4 linked regions of the Homo sapiens genome follow. The protein of the gene in region 4 purifies or fractionates together with the protein of the main gene of each other region. This does not show direct contact. Each region holds a gene or a part of one and is shown on either strand. Other genes may lie near its edges. The genes, in order: GAK, PPM1B, PICALM and HIP1R.

Region 1 (3,574 bases), on a different chromosome or scaffold from region 4:
CGTGGACAAGCCCCGGGTCTGCCTTGGCTCCTGGGGGTGACGTGGGGACACTGCCCCAACCCCCGTGGACAAGCCCTGGGTCTGCCTTGGCTCCTGGGGGTGGGGTGCTGCCTCCACAGCTGCCCTGTCCTGGTGTCTGCCCTCCATCCAGAGTGTTCCCGTCGCCCCAGCACCTGGCCTGTGCTCCAGCCCCTGGAGACCTTCACACGTGTGGGTGGAGCCGGCACCTCTGGACGGCCTCGAGTGATCGGTGTTCTATTTTGCAAGCGCATGTTTTCCAATATACGTGGTGCTCTGCGTTATAGAAACAGTAGTTGCCCCTCATGGACAACCAGATGCCGAGTTTCCGATCTCCATCTCCACAGGCTCACCAGCTGGATTCCCTCCTGGGGGCTTCATTCCCAAAACGGCCACCACGCCCAAAGGCAGCAGCTCCTGGCAGACAAGTCGGCCGCCAGCCCAGGGCGCCTCATGGCCCCCTCAGGCCAAGCCGCCCCCCAAAGCCTGCACACAGCCAAGGCCTAACTATGCCTCGAACTTCAGTGTGATCGGGGCGCGGGAGGAGCGGGGGGTCCGCGCACCCAGCTTTGGTGAGTCCCCCACTCTCTGTTGCTGTGGAGTTTGCAGAGACCTCCCTGAATTGGCTAAAGGTAGAACCTATGTTGTTTTCTTCATCTCAGAGCCCAGTCCTGGGACAGGCACGGCCAAGCCACTCAGAGAACGACGCGGTTTCCGATGTGTGTTCACTGGTCTCTCTCTGGGTCAGGCCTCTGGGTCCCTCTTGTTCCAGTGACACCTTCTTGACCTGTTTTTAACAAATGGCCTTTGCAACCCTGTCTTGTCTTCCCTCTTCTTTACTCTGGAGGCATCAGGATGGTAGCCCTGTTCCCGGGGGCAGCAGGTGGAATTGGGCCTGTGTGTCTCTGCAGAAAGTTTCTGTTCTTAACTGGGCTTTGTGGCTCACGCCTATAATCCCAGCACTTTGGGAGGCTGAGGCGGACAGATCGCTGGAGCCCAGGAGTTCAAGACCAGCTTGGGCAACAGTGATACCTCCTCTCTACAAAAAATGTAAAAATTAGCCAGGCATGGTGGCGCATGCCTGTGGTCCCAGCTACTTGGGAGGCTGAGGCAAGAGGATCGCTTGAGGCCGGGAGGCAAAGGCTGCAGAGAGCTGAGATCACGCCATTGCACTCTGGCCTGGGTGACAGAGTGGAGACCCTGTCTCAAACAAAAAAAAGTTTCTGTTCTTTTCTAGCTCAAAAGCCAAAAGTCTCTGAGAACGACTTTGAAGATCTGTTGTCCAATCAAGGCTTCTCCTCCAGGTCTGACAAGAAAGGGCCAAAGACCATTGCAGAGATGAGGAAGCAGGACCTGGCTAAAGACACGGACCCACTCAAGCTGAAGGTGGGTGGGTGGGCAGCTCTTCCTGGGAGCCCAGAGGCCTCAACCCATGGCCCCTGGAGCATCTGCTGTGCCTTATGGAGCCGGCGTCTCCAGACAGCAACCTTTCACCCCTGGAGCATCTGCTGTACCACATGGAGCCGGCGTCTCCAGACAGGGACCTGTCACTGCCGATGGGCCTGGCAGCCCTCAAGGACAGGGTGGCCTGAGGCCAGGGGGGCAGGGCAGAGTCAGGCCCCAGGCTGTGCTGCTCCCCACGTGCCCAGATGGCTCAGCGCTGGTGGGGGTGGGGTGGGCGGGCGTTACAGGAGTGAGTGCCCCGGGGTGTTTGCAGAGACTGTTGAGGGCAGGCGTCTCTTGGGGGCTGCTCTGGGTACTGAGCCTCCCAACCCAGGACGCTCACTGGGGGGTGAGGATGCAGCGGTCAGGCTGTCACTGTGCCGGCCCTGAGACACGCCCTGCTCTGTGGCTTGGCCGATGCCCAGCTCTGCAGGCCACATGCGCCTGTGACCTTGGGGTCCTTTCACAGGCACCAGGGACCATCCCCTTCTCCCTCGGAGTCTGGGGCCTGGGATGGGCCAAGGGGTTGCACCACCAGAACCAGGGTTTGTGTCCTCGGTGAACATCTGGCTGAGACGAGGGTCCCTCTGGCCCCAGGCCCTGAAACATGAAGACCACCTGGCCCTGTGTCGTCCGGAGTGGGCTCTATATAGTTGAGGGCAGGGCGTGCAGTGGGACAGTGTCTGTGAGCCGGGCTGAGCCCACCCCACGTGACCAGGCACTTCCTCAGCGTCGTGCCTCAGTTTCCGCGGTGCAGAGGAGGAGGGCAGGCAGGTGCCCAGGGCTCGGCAAGCTCCGTGTCTCCCGCAGCTCCTGGACTGGATTGAGGGCAAGGAGCGGAACATCCGGGCCCTGCTGTCCACGCTGCACACAGTGCTGTGGGACGGGGAGAGCCGCTGGACGCCCGTGGGCATGGCCGACCTGGTGGCTCCGGAGCAAGTGAAGAAGCACTATCGCCGCGCGGTGCTGGCTGTGCACCCCGACAAGGTGAGCAGAGCTGCCAGGCGGCCGCTTGAGGCCTTCAGGGGCGGGGCGGGGGGGGGGTCCTGCCCCGCCCGCCCCCGCATGCTTATAAGAGGCGCTTACACCGCCTGTCACCCATAGGCTGCGGGGCAGCCGTACGAGCAGCACGCCAAGATGATCTTCATGGAGCTGAATGACGCCTGGTCGGAGTTTGAGAACCAGGGCTCCCGGCCCCTCTTCTGAGGCCGCAGTGGTGGTGGCTGCGCACACAGCTCCACAGGTTGGGAGCCGTCGTGGGACCTGGGTCCCCACCGTGAGGACCCCGTGGGCGACAGCAGGTGTGGCCAGGGTGGGGCTCCGAGCCCCGGGTCACCGCCCGCCCAGCGTTCCAGGCACATGAAGAGAAAGCATTCCAAAGCCTCTGATTGTTGTTTCCTTTTTCTCCTCCCGAAGGAACAGCTGATTCATGCTCCTCCCGCAATTGTCACGTCTGTGATTTATTTGGTGTTTCGGGCGTGGCCTCTGGAGCCCCGGCACGTGGTGGGCCACGCTGCTGGCGCTCATGGGCCCTGGTGTTTGCACCGCACTTTGTAATCAGTCCCGTGGTTGTCTGTACAGAATTAAACTATTTTCCGATGACTGCTGTGTCTCCAGTGTGGATCCACTCGCCCAGGTGCCGTTCACCAGCTGGGGCACAAGGCTGTGCTTCCTCAGCAACCTTGCCGTGGTTGGATTGTTGCAGGGGCCGAGTGGAGAGGAGAAGCGGGTCCCGGGGCTGCAGCGGCTCTGGGCAGCTCTTCAGGGGGCCATAGAGCCCAGCCAGGGCAAGGCCAAGGGCGGGGGCCCCTGCAGTCCCCAGACCCCCTTCCTCCCCTCGGCCCCGGGACTCCTCTCTCCTCTCCACTTGGCCCCTGCCCCTGGGCCCTGGACCTAGGAGCAAGGGTGGGCTCCACACTGCCCCTGTGCCATCCCCGCAGGGCCAAGGTGGCCTCCGGGCTGTCGGGCTGGTGGAGGACCAGGGGCCCCTGGAAGGAGAAGGTGACCATGGTGAGCCCCCACCCCACAGCAGACTCGAGGAGGCCCTGAATCATAGCCCTGAACTCACCGCCAGGCTCTTCCTGTTTTCAGAGAATAATGACTGCACGTTTGC
Region 2 (7,034 bases), on a different chromosome or scaffold from region 4:
GTTGCAGATTGCTGACTATAGTTTATCAGAAGGTGGGAGGAATTCTCTTAGTTTCCTTCTTCCTCATTCATAAAGAAACTGGGTAGTTTTTATTTTAGGAAGAGCTCTCTAGTTTGGTCAGCTGGCTGTTATGTGAACTTATCCAACTTGCTTAACCCCTCAAGGCACCAGTTTCTTTATTGGAAACTAAAGATAAAAACACCAACCATAGAGTTTTTTGTTTTTTGAGACAGAGTCTCGCACTGTCACCCAGGCTGGAATGCAGTGGCGCGATCTCGGCTCACTGCAAGCTTAGCTGCCCGGGTTCACACCATTCTTCTGCCTCAGCCTCCGAAGTAGCTGGGACTACAGATGCCCGCCACCATGCCTGGCTAATTTTTTGTATTTTTAGTAGAGATGGGGTTTCACTGTATTAGCTCAATCTCGTGACCTCGTGATCTGCCCGCCTCGGCCTCCCAAAGTGCTGGGATTACAGGCGTGAGCCACTGCGCCCGACCCCATAGAGTTTTTTTTTTTCTTAAATAAATTGTTACAAAAAAAGCTTATTGATGACACTTGTTAAAGATGGTAAGGCAGATATTTTTTCGGGGGTGGGGGGGGCATGGCAGTAGATATAGGGACCACTATGATAGAATCTTGCAGTGGCAGAAAGAAATTAAACTCAACTTGGGGTCCCATAAAGATAAGTGGAATTTATAACTAAGGAGCTGAGTGCTTGAAGGGAGTGTCAGTGGATGGAAAATTATTACTAAGAGGAAGCATCAACATAAGGGGTTTCTGGCTAAACTGACTTGATAGCATGGCAGGCCAGGCTAAAATATCCAGAGTGGTCCTATATCAAGTGTGTGGGGGTTTTCAGTAAACTGACTGAGCAGGATTCTCATTCAGCCTGGTTTCTACAAGGACAGAGAGGGAGCCTAAAGTTCTCCTAGTCAGAAAGAACTCAAGAGTCTTGCTGAAGGTTTGGTCCAAGCAAAGAGTTTTTGTCAAAATAAATGAGAATTATGTTTGTTAAGCACCTATTATGGTGCCTAGCACGTAAGTCCTCAGCAAACTGTAACTTTATATGAACTCTTAACTTCTGTAATAGCCACATTTTAATTTCTTAAAGGTGTGGTCAATTCAGTTTAACATGAGTTAATAATTTAATATTAATTTTCTTCTGCATAGTTAGTAACTTTCTAAAGTATATATTATATAGGAGAGATAACAAATATGTAATATGATCTCTAGGGCCTGTAGCAAATAGTTATTATTAATCAGGAGACAAAATTGTTAGCTAGGCAGCCACTACAAATCAATTTAAGTTGGTACTTAAAATGTAACTTCACAGTAGCTTACACCTATAATTCTTGGGATGCCGAGGCAGAAGGATTGCTTGAGACTAGGAGTTCAAGACCAGCCTCGGCATCATAGAGCTACAAAAAAGTTTTAAAGATTAGCTGAGCATGGTGGTGCACACCTGTAGTTCCAGCTACTTGAAGACTGAAGCAGGAGGATCACTTGAGTCCAGGAGTTTGGTGTTACAGTGAGCTATGATGGCACCACTGCACTCCAGCCTGGGCCACAGAGTAAGAACATGTCTTTAAGAAAAAAAAAAAAGTAACTTTTTATTTGTAAAGCAGTGTTCTTCAGGAGCATTATGTTTCTTCTGGGGTTTTAAATCATGTAATATGACATTAAATTTTGTGGTAAATACATTCTGGTGTACTTGGTAAATCTGTGTGTATGCTTTTAATGATGACTGGTCAGGTGGGAAAGGAATAATATTAAAATAAACAGGGAATAGTAGTTCACCTGAATTGATGAATTATATATTTAATGATTGCTTTCTACATACAGGTTTACTCAGTGTTTATTGAACATGTGTCACTGAGGATATAGCAGAAAAAGAAATCTCATAGAATTTGTATTCTAGTAAAAACCTATTTTTTTTTAATAGAGAAATAAAATAGAGTAAGTAGAGAGCAACAAGGAATATTGGTTAGAAATGTCTCTGTGAGGAAGGATGTTTGAGCAGCCGTGCTTGGAGAGAGAATATCTGAGGGAAGAACATTCCAGGCAATGACAACAGCAAAGACTAGGAGGGAATGTTCTTAGTGAGTGCAGCTGGGTTAGAATAAGCCAGTAGAAAACTAGAGGAAAATTAAGAGGTTTGTAGGAGGCATATCATGTGAGGACTTTGGACTTTGACTTGTGGGAATTCATTGGAAGATTTTGAGTACAAGAGTGATTTGTTCTTTTTTCCAAAGGATCTCTCTTAGTTGCTGTATGGAGAAGAGATTGTATAAAAGGGACAAGAGAAGCCAAAATACCGATTAGAAATTATGCATTAATGCATGGTAGTGGTAAATTGGACTAGAGTAGAGGGGTGTAAAAATGTCTGGTGACATTTTTGGTGTCATAGCTGAGGGGGTGCCACTGGCATCTAGTGAATGGAGGCCAGGGATGCTGCTTAATATTCCACAGCACACAGGACAGCCCCCACAACAAAAAAATTGTCTGGTGTAAAATGTCGGTGTTGTTGATGTTGAGAAGCCTTATACTATAAGACACAGATTTAAGGTAGAAAACTTACAGTCCTGCTTTCATGAAGCTTGCAGTCTATGACCCAATAAACATCGTGTATGTGGGAGTATATAGCATTATGGTATACAGTACATGTCATGCATATGGGAGTGTATTGCAGTGTACCTACTCAGACTTAGGTCAGAGAAGGATTTGAGAATGTGACATATAAAATTGAAACCTCAAGGATGAAAATAGGCATTCATAGCTGGGCGTGGTGGCTCAGGCCTCTAATCCCAGCATTTTGAGAGGCTGAGGTGGGTGGATCACGAGGTCAGGAATTCAAGACCAGCCTGGCCAACATGGTGAAACCCCATCTCTACTAAAATACAAAAATTAGCTGGGTGTGGTGGCACATGCCTGTAATCCCAGCTACTTGGGAGGCTGAGGCAGGAGAATCGCTTGAACCAGGGAGTCAGAGGTTGCAGTGAGCTGAGATAGTGCCACTGCACTCCAGTGTCTCAAAAAAAAAAAAAGGGACATTCACCATACAGAGGGGTTGGATTAGAGTGAAAAGTGTTCCCAAACCAACGAAAAGAGTATGTGAAGATCTAGAAGTAGAAGTCTTTGAATGGATCCTTTGGAGATGAGGGAGGCGGGCAGAGTTGAAAGAGTAGTGGAAGTCAACGTAAGGGTCTTGTGAGGCATGGTAAACAGTTGTTTTGAAAGTAAGGCCTGGGCTGGGTGTGGTGGCTCATGCCTGTAATCCCAGCACTTTGGGAGGCCGAGGTGGGTGGATCACCTGAGGTTGGGAGTTTGAGATCAGCCTGACCAACATGGAGAAACCCCATCTCTACTAAAAATACAAAATTAGCCAGGCATGGTAGCACATGCCTGTAATCCCAGCTACTCGGGAGGCTGAGGCAGGAGAATTGCTTGAACCCAGGAGGCAGAGGTTGCAGTGAGCCAAGATCACGCCATTGCACTCCAGCCTGGGCAACAAGAGTGAAACTCCGTCTCAAAAAAAAAAAAAAAGCTGTAGAATGTAACTATTTCAGGTAAGTATCAACTTGTAAAAATGATTTTTAATTTCTCCCCTTTTTCTTATAATTCTTATCTAGCTAAACTTTTATTATCCTTTAGTAATGGCATTCATAACTTTTATATTGTTTTTACTTAATATTAGATCAGAAGTATTTTTCCATATAGCTGTTACTGTATTCATCAAGACACCTATTTCGTAATTTTTAGTGATTATAAACCATTTCACTCAATGGCTACACCAAAGTTTTTAACTGTCCTCTTGTTGGTGAACATTTAGTTTGTTCCAGTTTTTGCTTTTTATGAATAATGCTGGAATGAACATACATATGCAAATAACTGTTTTTTCTTTTTTCCCCCTGCATAGCAATGTTTCAGTCAATAAGTAGCTTTTTGTATTACTTCTTAAAAATTTTTTGTGTGTTGATGGTAATTTTTTTTAATATATTTTAAAATAGGTACTACCAAATAGTATCTCTTGTTTCACTTCTTGGTGAGTACTGGCTTATCACATTAATTTAGGAACTTTTTTTAAAAAACCTACAGAGATTATGGAGAAGTCTGGCGAGGAAGGAATGCCTGATCTTGCCCATGTCATGCGCATCTTGTCTGCAGAAAATATCCCAAATTTGCCTCCTGGGGGAGGTCTTGCTGGCAAGTAAGTAGAACAAAAAGCTAATTTTGAGTTCGTTCATAATTAGTAATTAAATAATTTGGGGTAAAAAAACTTAAATCAGAAGTACATCAATTATCTAGAGGTGAAATGGGTTAGTGTTTCTTATACTAGAGAAGAACTCTTAAAACTTCAACCAAAAACGATTTTTTAAAAGGAATTATCTATCATACTCTTTGAGTATGAAGGTCCTTCTTTCCTTGCTAAGGAGTACAAATGGATTGTGCAAAATCAGATTCTGAGAGTAAAGTGTAGAAGGTATGTTCTTGACAAGTATAGAGTGTACCAGTTACTTTTTTAGTGTGGTCAGGATGAAATATTGAGATATTCACAAGCTTAAAATTCTGTGTAATTTAATAAAACTAAAGCATGTTTTTTTTTTTTAGGCGTAATGTTATTGAAGCTGTTTATAGTAGACTGAATCCACATAGAGAAAGTGATGGGGTAAGTTTTATTTTATTTCATAAGCATTTGAAGTAATTTCACAATATAAATACTAAATATGAATACATTCACATTAACGAAGTCTATAATAAATTATAGTCTGTAGTAAATTACTACTGCTTTTCATTTTAAAGTGTCAGTTAAAGTTTAAGAAAATGTATTGAAATGAAGGTAGAGATAAAATTTTGTTTTGTAGATAGTTTTGTTGTCACTTTCTGGGCATCAAATGACCTTTTTTGTTTGGGCTGTCTTTATTTCTTCTCTATATGTCTGCTTTTCCTTCTTCTCCTTTAAACCTTAATTTTGAGGCAAGAATGCTCTTTTAAATATCTCAATTTCTCCTCCAGCAGGCTGCTGCCATCACCAGAAGTTAGTGATAGTGAGTGAGTTGTTATTTTAATAACTAGACCTTTCAGTACCCCTGTATGCCCACTTGGAATACCCGAGGATAGTTTTTTTCTAATATTATTGTTGTATTATGGGTACATGAGTGTTGAGCTGAGATAACCATTTCTGTTGTACCTTGCTGTACTTCATCAGAGCAAGACTCTATGCCCTTACCTTTTATTTTGCTTTTCTTCGAAATGTCAGTGAGCTGCCAGCTGCCCCTCTATATTGTTTTGTTTTGTTTTAGTACTATTACCAGGAGACAGAAGTGTCCTTTTTTTTTTTTTAAATCCAAGTTAGTTCAAATAAGTATTTTTCTCTTGGGTTTTCAAGTTTTTATGTCTAAAAATAAATTATTTAATTTTTAATATATATGCTTCAAAGCTTTAAGGGAACCAAACAGAAATGAAACTGATTGGGAGGAAGAGTCCACCTCCAGTCTCCAGCTCCTCTTGGCAGATTGAGAGAGAGAGTATCCATTGGCTAGAAATCATATGTCATCTCAATTGCATTATTTGCTAGGATTCATTGTTGCACAGCAATATAATATGATTTCTTTTCCTTAACAGTAAAAGTTATCCTGGCAAAAAGGAAAATTTAATAATTAATATAATTTTAGTGAGTCATATAAAAGTGATGCTATATATTGCTAATTATAATTTATATCTTGGTCTAGAGCAGTGATTCTGAGTCTTTTTTTGTGGCAGGTTCCTCAGAGTATTAAGAATTGTACCCAAGGCCGGGCACGGTGGCTCATGCCTGTAATCCCAGCAGTTTGGGAGGCCGAGGCGGGCGGATCACCTGAGGTTGGGAGTTCGAGACCAGCCTGACCAACATGGAGAAACCCCGTCTCTACTAAACATACGATATTAACTGGGCATGGTGGCGCATGTCTGTAATCCCAGCTACTCGGGAGGCTGAGGCAGGAGAATCGCTTGAACCCGGGAGGCGGAGGTTGTGGTGAGCCGAGATCATGCCATTGCACTCCACCCTGGGCAACAAGAGCGAAACTCCGTCTCAAAAAAAAAAAAAAATTGACCCAAAGCTGAGAAAATTAATTTAAAAATCCAAATATTTTATGTGATCCATCAGAGAACCCTCAAAGAAATGAGTATAGGATGTTGACATATGACTAAAAGGATGGTGGTAATTTGGAAGGTTGAGAGAAGAGAATCTTAACTCTTCAGCTAGATTATAGATTCTTCAGGGCATCCACTACCTTGATTAGAGGAAATAAGCCCTCAGAAGACAGTTATTGATTCATTATTAGCCATAGAAGTACTCCCATTTCCTCAGGTGTTTCAAAGTGTCAACCCTCATGTGTAATCTTTAAAAATACATATATATATATATATATACCTTGCTGGATTTTGGGGTCCTTCATAGTCTATTTTTACTCCAAACAAGGTTTTCTGTTTAACATATACCAAGGATAACTTTTAAATTTTTTAAAAAGAAAAAATGATTACACATAGTAGCTACATAAACAGGGAATAAATAGGCAACGGAACTATGAAACTGGGGGGAAATGCTCAATATATAAACCTTACCTTAAATAGATTATTATTTGGCTATAGAAATGGGATATATGTACTTAATTACCTTTATACATAAATGTTCTATCAACATCAGCAGATCAAACACTGACAGTGTGTTGTATAGTGGATTCACAGAGGGAGAAGACTAGAAAACGTAAGACGTGACCCCACCTGTGTGTCTAGTGCAGCTTACACTGTAGTTATAAACACACCTTAAATGATCAAAATATTTCGTATAGCTTGGTAACAAATAAATGACAAAATCCAGAATGTGACCATTGCCATGTGACTTGGACAGTGATTGCTGTAAAAGTTCAGCTGCTTAAGCAGGGGGAAAGTCAGCTTCTTAGAGAAAAGATAGTATTTGAAGAATGATTTGAATGGTAGAAATGACATGAGGATGATGACCTTTCAAGTGGACTAGAGAGGCAAGGACAAAGTAT
Region 3 (7,164 bases), on a different chromosome or scaffold from region 4:
AAGACTTGGCCGGGCACGATGGCTCACGCCTGTAATCCCAGCACTTTGGGAGGCTGAGGTGGGCGCATCACAAGGACAGGAGATCGAGACCATCCTGGCTAACACAGTGAAACCCCGTCTCTACTAAAAGTACAAAAAATTAGCCAGGCGTGGTGGCAGGCGCCTGTAGTCCCAGCTACTCAGGAGGCTGAGGCAGGAGAATGGCGTGAACCCAGGAGGTGGAGCTTGCAGTGAGCCGAGATCATGCCACTGCACTTTAGCCTGGGCAAGAGAGCAAGACTGCCTCAAAAAAAAAAAAAAAAAAATTTCCAAGACTTGTCTGTTTTCTTGTATTGGATGGGCACGATACTTGGACATGATACTTTTTGAAATTATTGTTATGAGCATTACATTTTTAAAATGTAGTGTTTTTAGCACATAGGAGGCAATAAAAAAAACCTGCTCCTTCTCCGAACACTCCCTGCCTCTCTACAACATACCTTTTAGTTGGAAGAGCCTAGGAAATACCTAGGAAATGTGTTATTCAAGTTTTTTCCTTCTGTTTTTGGTCTGCTCCTTTACAATCAAAGCAAAGAGGCCTTCAAGTTGAGAACTAACTAGTTCCCAAAGGACTGATGGGTTCACTGTAAATAGTGTTTGGCACTTAGAACCTTTATGCCTGACACACAGTTCAACACATATTTTTTGAAAGAGTAAATTAATTAACAAGGTACTGAATAAGGATGATGCTCCAACCAGATAATTATGGGATGGACATGCTTTATTTATTTTTAGAAACAGTGTCTTGCTCTGTCATCCAGGCTGGAATGCGGTGGTAGGATCATAATTCACTGCAGGCTTAAACTCCTGGGCTCAAGGGATCCTCCTGCTTCAGCCTCCCAAGTAGCTATGACTATAGGCTTATGCCTCCATGCCCAGTAGACATGCTAAATGTGTGAAAAAGTGGGCAGATTTTATCAAATGAGAGGTTTGGAGTGATGGTGTGTCCGAATGCGTGATTTCAAAGCGTTCTCATTCATTCGTTCAATCACCATCTACTGTGTATCTACCTTGCATCAACCATAATACTAGCATGGATGTATCTCTGCACCCCCATGTTAGTGCAATTAGTCAATCACAATAATAATTAGAGAACAGAAGGATATATGAGTAACAAAAGGAAATCAGTAACTGCTTATTGGTATGTGAAACAGCATGACATCCAAGTATGTCAAGTAGTGTGATACTGTCTGGAGTGCATTTAAAGGAATCAGAAGAGATGAGGCTCAACAAGTAGTAGGTAGGTAGGGGAATTTAGAGGAATGGGAAGAGACAAGGCTCAACAGGTTTAGGTGGCCATGTGAGTTGGCACATGTGGAACTTCAGGTAAGATATTTCTTAAATAGACTGAAGAAACTGACACAGAGAAAACTTAAGTATATAAGATAAAGTAGGTCAGTAATGCCTATTCTTAGTTCTAATTCCCCATCTTCTTCTAAATTGGTCCATGTATTTCATTTCACAATTACACATAAACCTCTACAATGGTCACTGATTATTTACATACTTAGAAACTTCTAAAATGAGGCCAGATCATGAAGAACCATGTATGCCAGGTTGAGAGTTCTTAATTTCATCCTTTAGGGTAGCGATGGGGGAGTTACTGGAAGATTTTAATGCAAAGAAAAGACAATCACATTTTGGTTTCAGAAGGATCTGAATTGGAGAGTCAGGGTATAAAAGACAGAGAATCAGCTAAGAAGTTACTAAAACAGTCTAGTATAACAGAGATCATAAAGGCTGGAACTAAGGCAACAGAAGTGGGGTTAGAGATGGGATGTGTTTGAGAGATAAAAGTAGATTAGGCTTGATGAGGGAAATAAGACAGAAGGAGAACTCAGAATCACAGCTTTCTGAGCGGAGCTTCTGGACATGTGGTGAGGCCATTAACGGATATAGGGAACAGTATGGATTAAAGATGTAGGATGCTGGGCAAGGGCAAGAGAAGTTCAGTATTGGCCATGGTGAGTTGGCATCTGTGGAACTTCAGGTAGAGATATTTCCTGAATAGACCAAGGAAACTGACACAGAAAACTTAAGCATATAAGACAACATAGGTCAGTAATGTCTACCCTTAGAACAATTCCCCATCTTCTTTTAAATTTCTCCATATATTTCAGTTCACAACCACACATAAACCTCTTCAATGATTACTGATTATTTACATAGTTAGAAATTCTACTATGTATACTTGGAAAAAAATAAAATATTTCTAACAGCAGCTTGTTTGTTAATAGGGTAAACATGTCAACAATTATTGTCACAAAAGTGGTCTGAAAGAACCTCTTTGGTAAAAGTAATAGTGTAATACTTTCCTGTTATGTACTTAGGAATGACTGGCATTTTCCCTAAGGATAAAATATTCAGCTGTTGATAGCTAGACCATGTTAGTGTTGACCTCAGATTGGGGTTTACCAATGCAGAGGCTCAGGCCAATCAGTAACTTATACAGTGGAACCCATAGACCAGTAGCAATGATGGCTGATAACATGTCTTGAGAATTTGGTAATTCCACTGCCCAGTGGACGTGGGGCAGCAAACTGGGCACCAAACCACAGATGGATTGCAGTACACTGAAGGAATTCATTATAGTTTTGTGAAATTGGAGGCTGGCTTGACAAAGATGAAGCCTGCTGGGATTAAAAACTTGTGTGTTCTTGGCAAGAGCATGTTGCTGCAGAATTTCACCAGCCATAGTGGGGAAAAAAGAGGGGTGAGGGGGCGTGGGGAAAATGGGAGACCACAAAATTCCTGATATGATACATAAAATGTTAAATATCTATCAGCTTTGCATCCTTTGAGAGTCACCAGATTGAAGCACAGTATTTTGGATTTGGCTGGCAGATGGTGTACACAGACTTTCTGAGAATGTTAGCATTTCATTTGAAACTAGCAAGATTACATGTGACTATCATGGTAACTTAGCACTCACATATTTTTCAACTTATCCCTAACCCTGGGTTGAATGTAGAGGCTCTAATAACATATAAAAGGCTTTGTTAATGTATGGTCTGGGTCTCATTGAATAGTATTTCAGGATGTAATACTTCTTTTAAAATGTCCACAGGGCAGTGTCAACGTCTTTCCATGGAAATCTGGCTCACCCAATAAGAGAAAAGAGGCCAAAGGTAAGAAAGACTAAACCAGGGGAGATGGCAGGCAGTGATGTCTGGACTGTTTGAATGGGACTTCTCCATTTACCGCCCCTCTCACTTCCTTCTATGGTCTGGACCTTTAATCACCACAGCAGTCAGCCATGTAGGGTCAAGCTAATCGCTGTTGACATCATCCTACTACTTCCCTTTTCAAATTCCAGTGAAGCTATGTGTTTCCTGTCCTATTCCACACCCTAGAGAATGAATACCGGCCAGCTAGTATCTAAATTTAGAATGGCAGCAACGTGTCGGGTTTTCGGAGTAGAGATAAACAAAACCAGGTGACATTTCCAAGCCTCTCAAGGAAAGGGGGGAAAAAACCTTTCTGGGGTAAGTAAATAAGGAGAGCTTCAATAGTTCCATGGTAGAGAGAGGCCTGCTGGAAGGTTCAGAAAATAGGCCGTTTGGAACCTTCTCCTTTAAGCCAGGAGGGCGGCTTTGGGAGGCGTCTTGAAATACATTCTTGACTCTGCTGGGAAAGCTCGGGGAGCCAGAGGCCTAATACCCCCCACTTCAGGGGAAGCTGTGAAGGCAGCTGCACCTCCTTTGTCAAGCTGTTGGTTTCAACCACAGACACGAGGACACACTTGAGGTGGGGGGATAAGGGGAGAAGCCTGCCGCCCCGCCCCACCCCCGCCAGCACACCGCCCTCGCCATTCCTCTCCCGCCCCGCCCCGCCCGGCGTCTGTGACCCCGCGGGCCGAGCCTCAGGCGACCTGTTGGCAGGGAGAGTCACGTGATGCGCCGGCTGTGCACTCCCCTCGGGCGGGCCTCCTGTTGCGCCCGCCTGGCGAGTTCCATCACGTAACGCGCGGGCGCCGCCCAGCTCTTCCCTCGCTGAGCGAGGGAGGGCGGGCGTCGAAGAGGAAAGGGAAGGGGAAAGGGGCGGGAGAAGGGAGGAGGGGCGGTGTCCGAGTCACGTGACCCGGGGCAGCCCGGAAAGCTCCGAGGAGGAGCCTGGCGCCGCCATTTTCCTGCAGCTGCCTGTTCCTCTTACCCTGCCCGGCTCCAGCTGACCCGGGAAGGGGTGGGCTGAACTGAGGCGGGGGCAAGGGAGTGCCCGACATCTTGTCCGACTCCGCGGGTGACACGAGCCGGTTCTCTCTGGACTGGTGGCAGCGCGCGGCCCCGAACCGCGCCCCAGGCCGGCAGGCGGGGAAGGAGCCGGTGGGGGTAGGGGGTGCGGTGGGGGGTGGGGACCCTCCGGCTCTTGGGGGTCCCAGTCCCCGCCGGCTGCTGAGCGGGTGGGGTGGTGGAGGAGCTGCAGAGATGTCCGGCCAGAGCCTGACGGACCGAATCACTGCCGCCCAGCACAGTGTCACCGGCTCTGCCGTATCCAAGACAGTATGCAAGGCCACGACCCACGAGATCATGGGGCCCAAGAAAAAGCACCTGGACTGTGAGTGAAGCCGACCGCGGCCCCCGCTCCCCGGCGCCCGCGCGACCCGCGCGCGTCCTTCTCTCTCTCTCTTGTCTTTCACCCTTCTACTGCCTCTTCCCTCCCTGCGTCTTCTCTGGCACGGCCGGTCCTGTGCCCGTTGAGCTGTGTTCTTTTGCTTCCATCACACCTGCCTTCACGGCCTCCGCTCCCCGTCTCAAAATCTGACAAGCCACTCCCCTCCCTATTCCTAGGGGACCCTCGTCTCCCTGCCCGGTGCGCTACCACACCCCATCATACCCAACCAACTTGCTTCCCCACCTGGCTTCTCACCCCCTACCCGTCTCCACTGCAGCCTTCTGCTCTTCCTTCCCACCCGTCCGGTGCCGCCTCGTCGCCCTCGTCTGAGCGTCTCCAAGCCCCATTGTTTCTTCATCAGCCTCCTTCGGGTTTCAGTAAACGCCTGGTTCCTTGCATCCAGATCCTTGTTATCCCTCCGGGCTGCCTCCCTGGAAGGGATCCCCCACTTCCTTTGCTCCACTAGCTGCTTCGCCCATCCCTTCCTGGCTTTCTGTTCCACCTTCCCTCCTGCTTTTGGGTTACCTTTTCATCGCCTCTATAGTAGCTTCAGTGTAGTTTCTTCGACTCATTTTAAATACCATACCCAGTTACCCGACTTTTATTTCAGATTACCTTCTTTGTGGGAGTGAAAGTAAAAGGATTCAATTTGGTGTAGGGAAAGCTTTCTGGAAAGTTGGGATTTTTATTTGCCTCTGGTGGAATTTAATCGTTGTGTTGTCCATACTTTTGACTGGGGTGAGTTTGTGACTGTCAGCTCTGCCCCCCAGCTTTTCACATGGGGATATGGAAAAAGGCATTTTGCTGATACTCTTATCAGTTCCTGGAACTGTTAATTCTGGCGGCTTGAATTCAGAAGCTTGAGTGTTAAGCGTAGACTGTTGGAATTCCAAATGGATTAATAAATTTACTTACAAATAACATACATCCCTTAAAAAAATTGGCAAAATGATGTTTGATGATGCTTGAGTTTGGATGTTTTAATTATGCCAGTTACCTTTTGAGGAACTAGCTTTAGCTTCTCTTACACGACATAGTATTCGTCCATTCGCTAACGTAGATACAATTAGTAGAGCTAACTCCTCGTAACTTTTTTCTAACCTGGAAGTCACCTGTAATACCCTCCTTTTTCTTTGCGCTCTTTTACCCCAGGGTACAAAGCTCATTGGATCACTCAAGCCAATGGAGCTTAGACCTGAAACTTTTCAGGGAAAAATAGGGCAATAGTCACGATAAGTAAGTTCCCTTTTTAAATGACTGGACACATTAGTCTGACTGACTTTCATCATACATGAAAGTTACTTTGTTTTACTGTTTGAAGCAAGAGTGAGCATGCCCTGAAAGATAATTCACTGTCTGGAAGCCTGTTTTGATTTCTCATTTGGACTTTGGCCGTAAAGTTTGCACTTTAAAAAAAATGTACGAAATGTAGATTCTTCCAAGTTACTGTGCTCATGAATGCTGTTAGAACAAGTTTTTGCTACACAGAAGCCTATTATTCTTTGTGATTGTTCCTCCACTGTGGAAAAAAGTTTTAAATAAAAAAGCATTAGTGCTTGATTCTTTCAGATATGCATGCAGGCTGCTTTTAAACTCTCAGTCCTTGCTTGTCTTAGAGAATGGAGAATATGTTTAAATGGTGACACTCTTATGAACAGAAAACTTTTTAAAATGCATCGTAAAGCCATATGTGATTTTTTGATTATCTGATACGTGTAGTAGACGTTTCTGCTATTTACGGCTCTTCAAATACTACTTGGTTTGCCCTACCAAATCTTACAGTTTGTCCTGACACTGTGTTAATTCTTTTGTTAGTTGCTTTTGGTTTTTTTTTGTTTTTTTTTTTTGTATGGGAGTATGAAGAAACTAGTTGTGACTGTGTGAACTATTTTCCTCTTTCCTCATTCAAAATAAGAATCGATAAGGCTTTTAAAAGTTTTTTTTGTAAAGGTTTGTGTCTTATTTCAAATGTAGCAGTGGTTCTTTTAAAGCATTGTCAAAAAGAGGAGAAAATAGGTAGGGTTAGAAGAGTGCTATTTGCATGTTGTTTCATAAATGTTATTAGCTATTTCTCTTGTTATAGCCACTACTGCAGATAGATGGTAACTGGGATTAGGTTTGGAGGATAATCTTGCATTTGTCGTTCTTTTTCTCTACCACTTCTGTGTTTACAAGCTCCCACGTTTTTGGAACTTGAATATACCTGGTAGTATTTGATTTAAAAATATATGTGTCGTTAATGTGCTTCTGTTTCTTTTCAATGAGGTTTTAAAATACAGGGATACTATTTTCCCTACATTGTTGATTAAAATGTCCTGTAATCAGTTCTCACTAATAAAATACCTTTATCTTAGGTAAAGTCTGACCAGTGAGTGGTTTACTAAACAAATACCTTCCTTGCACACACTAACATGCTTTGAGAAAATTAAAAAGTCTTCTACGGACAGTTCATGGTGTTGACATCATGAACTTTAGGCTTTAATACAGAAACCTGTCATTTCAAGTAATTTTTTG
Region 4 (7,034 bases):
CAGTTACCCCTGGCATGGGAGAAGGCCAGTGTGGGCAGGCAGTGGCCCCACGAGGGAAGTGGAGAACACTCACAGGCACGCTTCCCACCTGGTGACGCTGGTGTGTTGATGAAGCACAAATGGGGTGTACCAGCATCTGCTGGAGAAATTCCCAGATCTGCAGAGGTGACAGGTACAGGGGCTTCCCTGCCTCAGGACCTGTAACAGCAAAGAAACACAAACGTCCTAAACATGCCTCAGCAGAGGCTGCGTCTCGCTGTCTGTGCAGAGCAGAGAACGGAGGGTGGTGGGAAGAGAGATGTGTCGAATCTGGGATGGCCGGGAAGATCTAGAAAACATTCTACTGTGTGAAATCAAGCAGATTGCCGAACAGCATGGACATACGTGTTGAAGATCCAAGCAGTACTTTATGTGTGCTGTAATTTTTTGCAAGGAAAACATACTTAGCATGACATGTAATTAGAGATTACTTTTTTAAAAAGGCAAGGGGCGGCACTTTGTGTCTTCCTTCTTGCCCCTCCCCCCCAGGCTCTCTCCTGTCACTGCAGAGATTTGCAAGTGGTCCCATCACAGGCAAGGCAGGAGCAGGACCTGAGGGGCCAGGGCACAGGTCTGTGCAGCGGGGGCTGTCTGGCCGCTCTCCCGTGCTGGCCAGCTGCCTGCTCTTTGTCATTCTCTCTGCCCCAGAGAAGCTGCCAGCCAAGGAGGAGGCAGCCTCATGTTTGTCCTTTGTCCCTCCCACTTGGTAGTTCTGATACAAGGCCCGATTGTCAGGGGCAGGGGAGACGGGCCCTGGGGGTGTCAGGGGCAGGGGAGACGGGCCCTGGGGGTGTCAGGGGCAGGGGAGACGGGCCCTGGGGGTGTCAGGGGCAGGGGAGACGGGCCCTGGGGGTGTCAGGGGCAGGGGAGACGGGCCCTGGGGGTGTCAGGGGCAGGGGAGACGGGCCCTGGGGGTGTCAGGGGCAGGGGAGACGGGCCCTGGGGGTGTCAGGGGCAGGGGAGACGGGCCCTGGGGGTGTCAGGGGCAGGGGAGACGGGCCCTGGGGGTGTCAGGGGCAGGGGAGACGGGCCCTGGGGGTGTCAGGGGCAGGGGAGATGGGCCCTGGGGGCAAGCGAGGTTTCAGGGTCACTTGGGGTGTGCAGAGCCAAGCTGTGACCCTAGTGCCGTGTTACTTGGCAGAAGCCCTGCCTGTTCCCACATCTGTAAAGTTAGGCATTTGGGGTGCTCCATCGTGAGCCTCCTTCCTGCTCTAACATTCAGCGTGGGTTTGAGGCCCGTGGGCATGGAGCTATCCGTCACCCTTGTCAGTCGGGCACCTCGTCCTGGGCTCCCAGGTGGAGGTCTCTGGAAGCCCTTGCTGAGCTGGGCTGGGAGCTCCTTTGCCCTGACCTTGTTGTTGCCGTTGACCTCCTTCATGGGAGCATCTGGTCTTGACCTGGGGCAGCCACCAGCACATGAGGCTCCCGTCTTGGAGGCAGGGGGCACACTGGTGTGTGGGAGCTGGCTTAGGGCCCTGCTTCACAGTTGGACCACCTTGGACAGGTTGCCCAGCTCCCAAGGGCTCACGTTCTTCCTCCTGCCCCTTTTGCACAGTTTTCCGACAGCTCAACACGGCCATCGCCGTATCCCAGATGTCCTCAGGCCAGTGCCGCCTGGCCCCCCTCATCCAGGTCATCCAGGACTGCAGCCACCTCTACCACTACACGGTCAAGCTCCTGTTCAAGCTACACTCTTGTGAGTGGCCCAGGGCAACCCCTGGCCCGGAAGGCTGTGTTTATATGGCTTAGACATTCACTGTCAAAAAGGAAAATCGAAAAATTAGAGGTTTATTCATTTAAAAATGGCAGTAATAAACCCACTGCCCATTAATAGAAATAACATATATTTTATGAAAAAAAAAAAAAAAAAACCCACTACTTTACCAAGCAAAAAACTTAGTGAGTGGCTTGGTTTTCATTTTTACGACTAAATGCCTGGCTCGGCCAAGACGGAGGCCCCAGCTGCTCCCAGGAATCTCCCGCCAGGCACCCTGGGGGTGCAAGCGCAAAAAGGCAAAAGGTGTCTGGGGTGTTAGGAGAGTTTTGATCTAACCAACCCCTTGAAAGGGTCTCGTCCCTCGACCGCACTTTGAGAACCACTGTGTTAGTGTCAGCCTGGGACCAACGTGTTTGGTGAAAGCGGCTTGCTAGTGCCTCCCGAAGCCAGGTGTGGGTTAGGTGAGATGTGGCCGCAGCGCCTTCCTTTCCATTCGCTGTTTCCTTCTCTAGCTCAGTCTGAACTGAGCCCTCCCACAGCGTCTCCCACAGGTCTCCCCATCCCGATGGGAGAGCGGGCCTGGCCCGGTCTCAGGTGATCTCTGATCTGTGAGTTTGTAGCATACGGAGGAACAAGGCAGGGCAGGTGAGCCCCTGAGCAGTGTGCAGAGAAGTCCTGTTACACTTGTGCCACCCTCCAGGTCTCCCTGCGGACACCCTGCAAGGCCACAGGGACCGGTTCCACGAGCAGTTTCACAGGTACTGCCTGGGACAGGGACAGGATTGAGGCCGGTGGGGGAGAGGCTCCGTGGCCCCTTCCTGAACCCGAACTTCCCACCATCTCTGCAGCCTCAGGAACTTCTTCCGCAGAGCCTCCGACATGCTGTACTTCAAGCGGCTCATCCAGATCCCCCGGCTGCCCGAGGTACCACCCCCAAGAGGGCCCCGAGGCCCTTTGAGGACCCCAGGCACCTGGCTGGGCCCCACACAGGCTATGGAGATGGCGGAAGGAGGGCTTGCTTAGGGGACAGCTGAGCAGGTCCCACCTGCCGCCCCTGCAGGGACCCCCTAACTTCCTGCGGGCCTCAGCCCTGGCTGAGCACATCAAGCCGGTGGTGGTGATCCCCGAGGAGGCCCCGGAAGATGAGGAGCCGGAGAATCTCATTGAGATCAGCACAGGGCCCCCCGCGGGGGAGCCAGTGGTGAGCCCCCTGCCCAGCCCGTGTCCCCCAGTCCTCCAGCTGCAGCATGAGGCCAACGGGAGTGTCGGGTGGCCAGCCCTCCCTTTGCCCACTGCCCGGCCTGGAGGGCACAGGTGAGTGGGGTCACCATGCTTTGCTGTGGCAGGTGGTGGCTGACCTCTTCGATCAGACGTTTGGACCCCCCAATGGGTCTGTGAAGGACGACAGGTGAGGGCTGGAGGAGCCGACTGGGCTGGGGGTGGTTGGAAACGGGCTCAGCTGAGCTGTGCTCTGGACAGTTCTGTCTGGAAAGGCCATAGGTGGGGAACATGAACCCGTGAGGTGCCCAAATCCTGAGTGGCCACTGAGGAGGAGACAGGTTCCTGTGCTGGGTCTGTTGACTGTTCTGGTTGACTTAACTTGAACCCCAGGACCTCTGTCCCCAGGGACCTCCAGATTGAGAGCTTGAAGAGAGAGGTGGAAATGCTCCGCTCTGAACTGGAGAAGATCAAGCTGGAGGTGCGGGGTGGGGATGGGTGGGGGCCAGGGCCCCTCACGGCCCAGGCAGGGCCCCACGTCACACCTCCTCCCGCAGGCCCAGCGGTACATCGCGCAGCTGAAGAGCCAGGTGAATGCACTGGAGGGTGAGCTGGAGGAGCAGCGGAAGCAGAAGCAGAAGGCCCTGGTGGATAATGAGCAGCTCCGCCACGAGCTGGCCCAGCTGAGGGCTGCCCAGCTGGAGGGCGAGCGGAGCCAGGGCCTGCGTGAGGAGGCTGAGAGTACGTGGGGCCTTGGCCACAGGGGTCCAAGGGTGTGTCCCCAGCCCCTGCCACCCCACACGGGGCATCACTGCCCCTCCTCTCGCCCCCAGGGAAGGCCAGTGCCACGGAGGCGCGCTACAACAAGCTGAAGGAAAAGCACAGTGAGCTCGTCCATGTGCACGCGGAGCTGCTCAGAAAGGTAGGTGCAGCCCATCCTCCATCCCAGCCGGTGGCAGGGCCTCTCGGGGATGGCAGCAGAGCATGAGCCCTTCCCCTGCCCATGCAGAACGCGGACACAGCCAAGCAGCTGACGGTGACGCAGCAAAGCCAGGAGGAGGTGGCGCGGGTGAAGGAGCAGCTGGCCTTCCAGGTGGAGCAGGTGAAGCGGGAGTCGGAGTTGAAGGTATGTCCCTTGTGGCACAGGGCCCTGCCCCGGCATCCCCAGCCCACTGCCCCAGTGACACGCTGTCCTGTCCCAGCTAGAGGAGAAGAGCGACCAGCTGGAGAAGCTCAAGAGGGAGCTGGAGGCCAAGGCCGGAGAGCTGGCCCGCGCGCAGGAGGCCCTGAGCCACACAGAGCAGGTGCATCTGGCTTTGATGACTGGAGGTGGGGTTCTGGGGCCAGTCCTGGGTGGAAGTCAGGTCCTCTTTCCCGTGAACAGGCCCCACCTGGGTGCCACTCGGTGATCCTGGGATGCAGCCCTGACCCAGACCCAGGGGCTACATGGGAGACAGGACCTACCGCTGGTCCTCAGGGAGCCCTGAGTCTAATGGAAGTGATCACTAACCCCCAGGGCCCAGTTTATAAGCGTGGGGGCAGGGTGGGTGGGGCCTGGGAGCTCTGTTCACATGCCTGGTGTCCATGTCTGTCCACAGAGCAAGTCGGAGCTGAGCTCACGGCTGGACACGCTGAGTGCGGAGAAGGATGCTCTGAGTGGAGCTGTGCGGCAGCGGGAGGCAGACCTGCTGGCGGCGCAGAGCCTGGTGCGCGAGACAGAGGCGGCGCTGAGCCGGGAGCAGCAGCGCAGCTCCCAGGAGCAGGGCGAGTTGCAGGGCCGGCTGGCAGAGAGGGTATGGCCTCCCCAGATGCAGCAGCACCACTGAGTTCACTGCCGTCTGGCAACCATCGATCTGTCTCCGTGATCTGCCTGTTCTAGAGATTTCATGTAAAGGGGATCATACACGATGCATCCTTTTGTGTCCGGCTTCTTCACTCAGCATCACGTTGTCAAGGGTCACCACATCATAGCCTGTGTCATTACCTCATTCCTTTTATGGCTGAGTCGTACTCTGCCGTGTGGACAGACCACATTGTGTTTATCTGTTCATCACTTGGTGGACATTGGGTTTGTTGCAACTTTCTGGCTGTTGTAAATAGTGCTGCTGTGGGCCTTTGAGCACAAGTTTCTGTGTAAACATCTGCCATCACTTATCTTGGATAGATAGCTGATGTGTGTGGAACACAGTAGAACTGCTGGGTCTCACCTCTGTTACCCTGTTGAGAAACTACCAGACTGTTTTCCAAAGTGGCTGCACCATTTTACACTCCCACCAGCAACGCATGAATGTTCCAGTTTCTCCACATCCTTGCCAATGCTTATTATTGTCTTCTTTTTATTTTAGCCATCCTAGTGGGTGTGGAGTGGTTTCTCACGGTCTTGATTTGTGTTTCCCTGATAGCAAAGGGTGCTACATATCTTTTCATGAGCTACCTGGCCATTTGTGTATCTTTGGAGAAATGTCTTTTAGGACCTTGAGCTCACGTTTTAATTGGGTTATCTTTTTATTCTTGAGCTGTGCACTGTGTGGGAAGCCTCTTTCTAGAAATCTCCACCCCCCTGACCAGTGAGGGTCTCAGCTGGGCTCCAACTGGTGGCCCATGGGTCATTCCAGGGCTGGGGCACATCCTTGGCCTTGGGGAGGATCTCTAACCTGTCCTCTTCACCCCCATTGCCAGGAGTCTCAGGAGCAGGGGCTGCGGCAGAGGCTGCTGGACGAGCAGTTCGCAGTGTTGCGGGGCGCTGCTGCCGAGGCCGCGGGCATCCTGCAGGATGCCGTGAGCAAGCTGGACGACCCCCTGCACCTGCGCTGTACCAGCTCCCCAGGTAGACAGTGGGGCCACACTCAGCCGCTCCCCTGCCTCCTTCCCATCCCCAGCCCTGAGCAGCGGGTGGCAGGGGCCTCAGTTCTCCTCGTGCTTGCAGACTACCTGGTGAGCAGGGCCCAGGAGGCCTTGGATGCCGTGAGCACCCTGGAGGAGGGCCACGCCCAGTACCTGACCTCCTTGGCAGGTGAGTGTAGCCAGGGCAGGGCGGAGGCGGGGGCTGTGTCCCAGTTCCAGCGCCCATGGCCACCTCTTGCCTTTTGGGAGGTTTACAGACAGCAGGGACCTCTCTGGGAAGCCAAGCAGATGCCCCCTGCCTGCTCCTTCCCAGGAACCCACCCCTGCCCTGTGGACAAATAGGCTTTTGCCTCTGGGGCCTGGGCCACCATATGTCTGCAGGTGGCAGAGCACTGAAGGGCCCGGGGCCACACACACTGTGGTGTGGTTCCCACTGCCTCCTGGACGTTGTCTTGCCGAGCCCTCCTTTCCTCTTCCTCCTCCTCCTGGGATAGCTGGCCACCGACGGTGGTCCCAGTGCTAGTGTCTCAGTGTCATCCTCCCCCAACCTTGGCCCCACCCACCCGCACAGACGCCTCCGCCCTGGTGGCAGCTCTGACCCGCTTCTCCCACCTGGCTGCGGATACCATCATCAATGGCGGTGCCACCTCGCACCTGGCTCCCACCGACCCTGCCGACCGTAAGTGGGTCCTGGGATGGCAGGTTCTGTCCACCTCACTGGCTTGTCTCCCCTGGGGGTCCTTATGGAGCCTGTCGGTGGGGGGGGCTCCACTCACGGTCCTTTCTCACCCCAGGCCTCATAGACACCTGCAGGGAGTGCGGGGCCCGGGCTCTGGAGCTCATGGGGCAGCTGCAGGACCAGCAGGCTCTGCGGCACATGCAGGCCAGCCTGGTGCGGACACCCCTGCAGGGCATCCTTCAGCTGGGCCAGGTGAGGCACAGCTGAGTGTGGGTTTGGGAGGCTTGGGCCTGCCTCTGACCTCTGCACCCACCTCTGGGTTGGCTGAACAGGTGTTTGTGCGTGGAGCCTGCAGCCTCAGGACACAGGGTGGGGACCATGCACCCTCCTCGATCCCTGTGGTCCCCAACCTCTTTCCCAGGCTGCCCGTGGGACGGGGGGGGACGGAGGCTACCCCTGTCTGACTCCCATCCTCACCAGGAACTGAAACCCAAGAGCCTAGATGTGCGGCAGGAGGAGCTGGGGGCCGTGGTCGAC

The links.
Region 1: the proteins of HIP1R (region 4) and GAK purify together in Homo sapiens (affinity purification with mass spectrometry; 3 studies listed by BioGRID and IntAct, with this or other methods). This does not show direct contact.
Region 2: the proteins of HIP1R (region 4) and PPM1B purify together in Homo sapiens (affinity purification with mass spectrometry; 2 studies listed by BioGRID and IntAct, with this or other methods). This does not show direct contact.
Region 3: the proteins of HIP1R (region 4) and PICALM fractionate together in Homo sapiens (co-fractionation; 3 studies listed by BioGRID and IntAct, with this or other methods). This does not show direct contact.

The regions. Positions count from the first base shown.
Region 1 is NC_000004.12:848,766-852,339, reverse strand, and holds the end of GAK (cyclin-G-associated kinase), read left to right. Parts: intron 1-365; coding exon 366-590; coding exon of another isoform or gene 591-793; exon of another isoform or gene 794-1,031; intron 1,032-1,255; coding exon 1,256-1,404; intron 1,405-2,271; coding exon 2,272-2,448; intron 2,449-2,565; coding exon 2,566-2,667; 3' UTR 2,668-3,063; downstream 3,064-3,574. UniProt on the Homo sapiens protein: Associates with cyclin G and CDK5. Seems to act as an auxilin homolog that is involved in the uncoating of clathrin-coated vesicles by Hsc70 in non-neuronal cells. Expression oscillates slightly during the cell cycle, peaking at G1.
Region 2 is NC_000002.12:44,213,872-44,220,905, forward strand, and holds part of PPM1B (protein phosphatase 1B), read left to right. Parts: intron 1-4,095; coding exon 4,096-4,207; intron 4,208-4,608; coding exon 4,609-4,666; intron 4,667-7,034.
Region 3 is NC_000011.10:86,066,080-86,073,243, reverse strand, and holds the start of PICALM (phosphatidylinositol-binding clathrin assembly protein), read left to right. Parts: upstream 1-4,159; 5' UTR 4,160-4,463; coding exon 4,464-4,593; intron 4,594-7,164. UniProt on the Homo sapiens protein: Cytoplasmic adapter protein that plays a critical role in clathrin-mediated endocytosis which is important in processes such as internalization of cell receptors, synaptic transmission or removal of apoptotic cells.
Region 4 is NC_000012.12:122,852,449-122,859,482, forward strand, and holds part of HIP1R (huntingtin-interacting protein 1-related protein), read left to right. Parts: intron 1-1,594; coding exon 1,595-1,735; intron 1,736-2,456; coding exon 2,457-2,514; intron 2,515-2,604; coding exon 2,605-2,680; intron 2,681-2,816; coding exon 2,817-2,957; intron 2,958-3,102; coding exon 3,103-3,164; intron 3,165-3,382; coding exon 3,383-3,455; intron 3,456-3,531; coding exon 3,532-3,715; intron 3,716-3,807; coding exon 3,808-3,896; intron 3,897-3,983; coding exon 3,984-4,100; intron 4,101-4,176; coding exon 4,177-4,278; intron 4,279-4,572; coding exon 4,573-4,767; coding exon of another isoform or gene 4,768-4,800; exon of another isoform or gene 4,801-5,569; intron 5,570-5,653; coding exon 5,654-5,801; intron 5,802-5,900; coding exon 5,901-5,987; intron 5,988-6,389; coding exon 6,390-6,497; intron 6,498-6,612; coding exon 6,613-6,749; intron 6,750-6,977; coding exon 6,978-7,034. UniProt on the Homo sapiens protein: Component of clathrin-coated pits and vesicles, that may link the endocytic machinery to the actin cytoskeleton. Binds 3-phosphoinositides (via ENTH domain).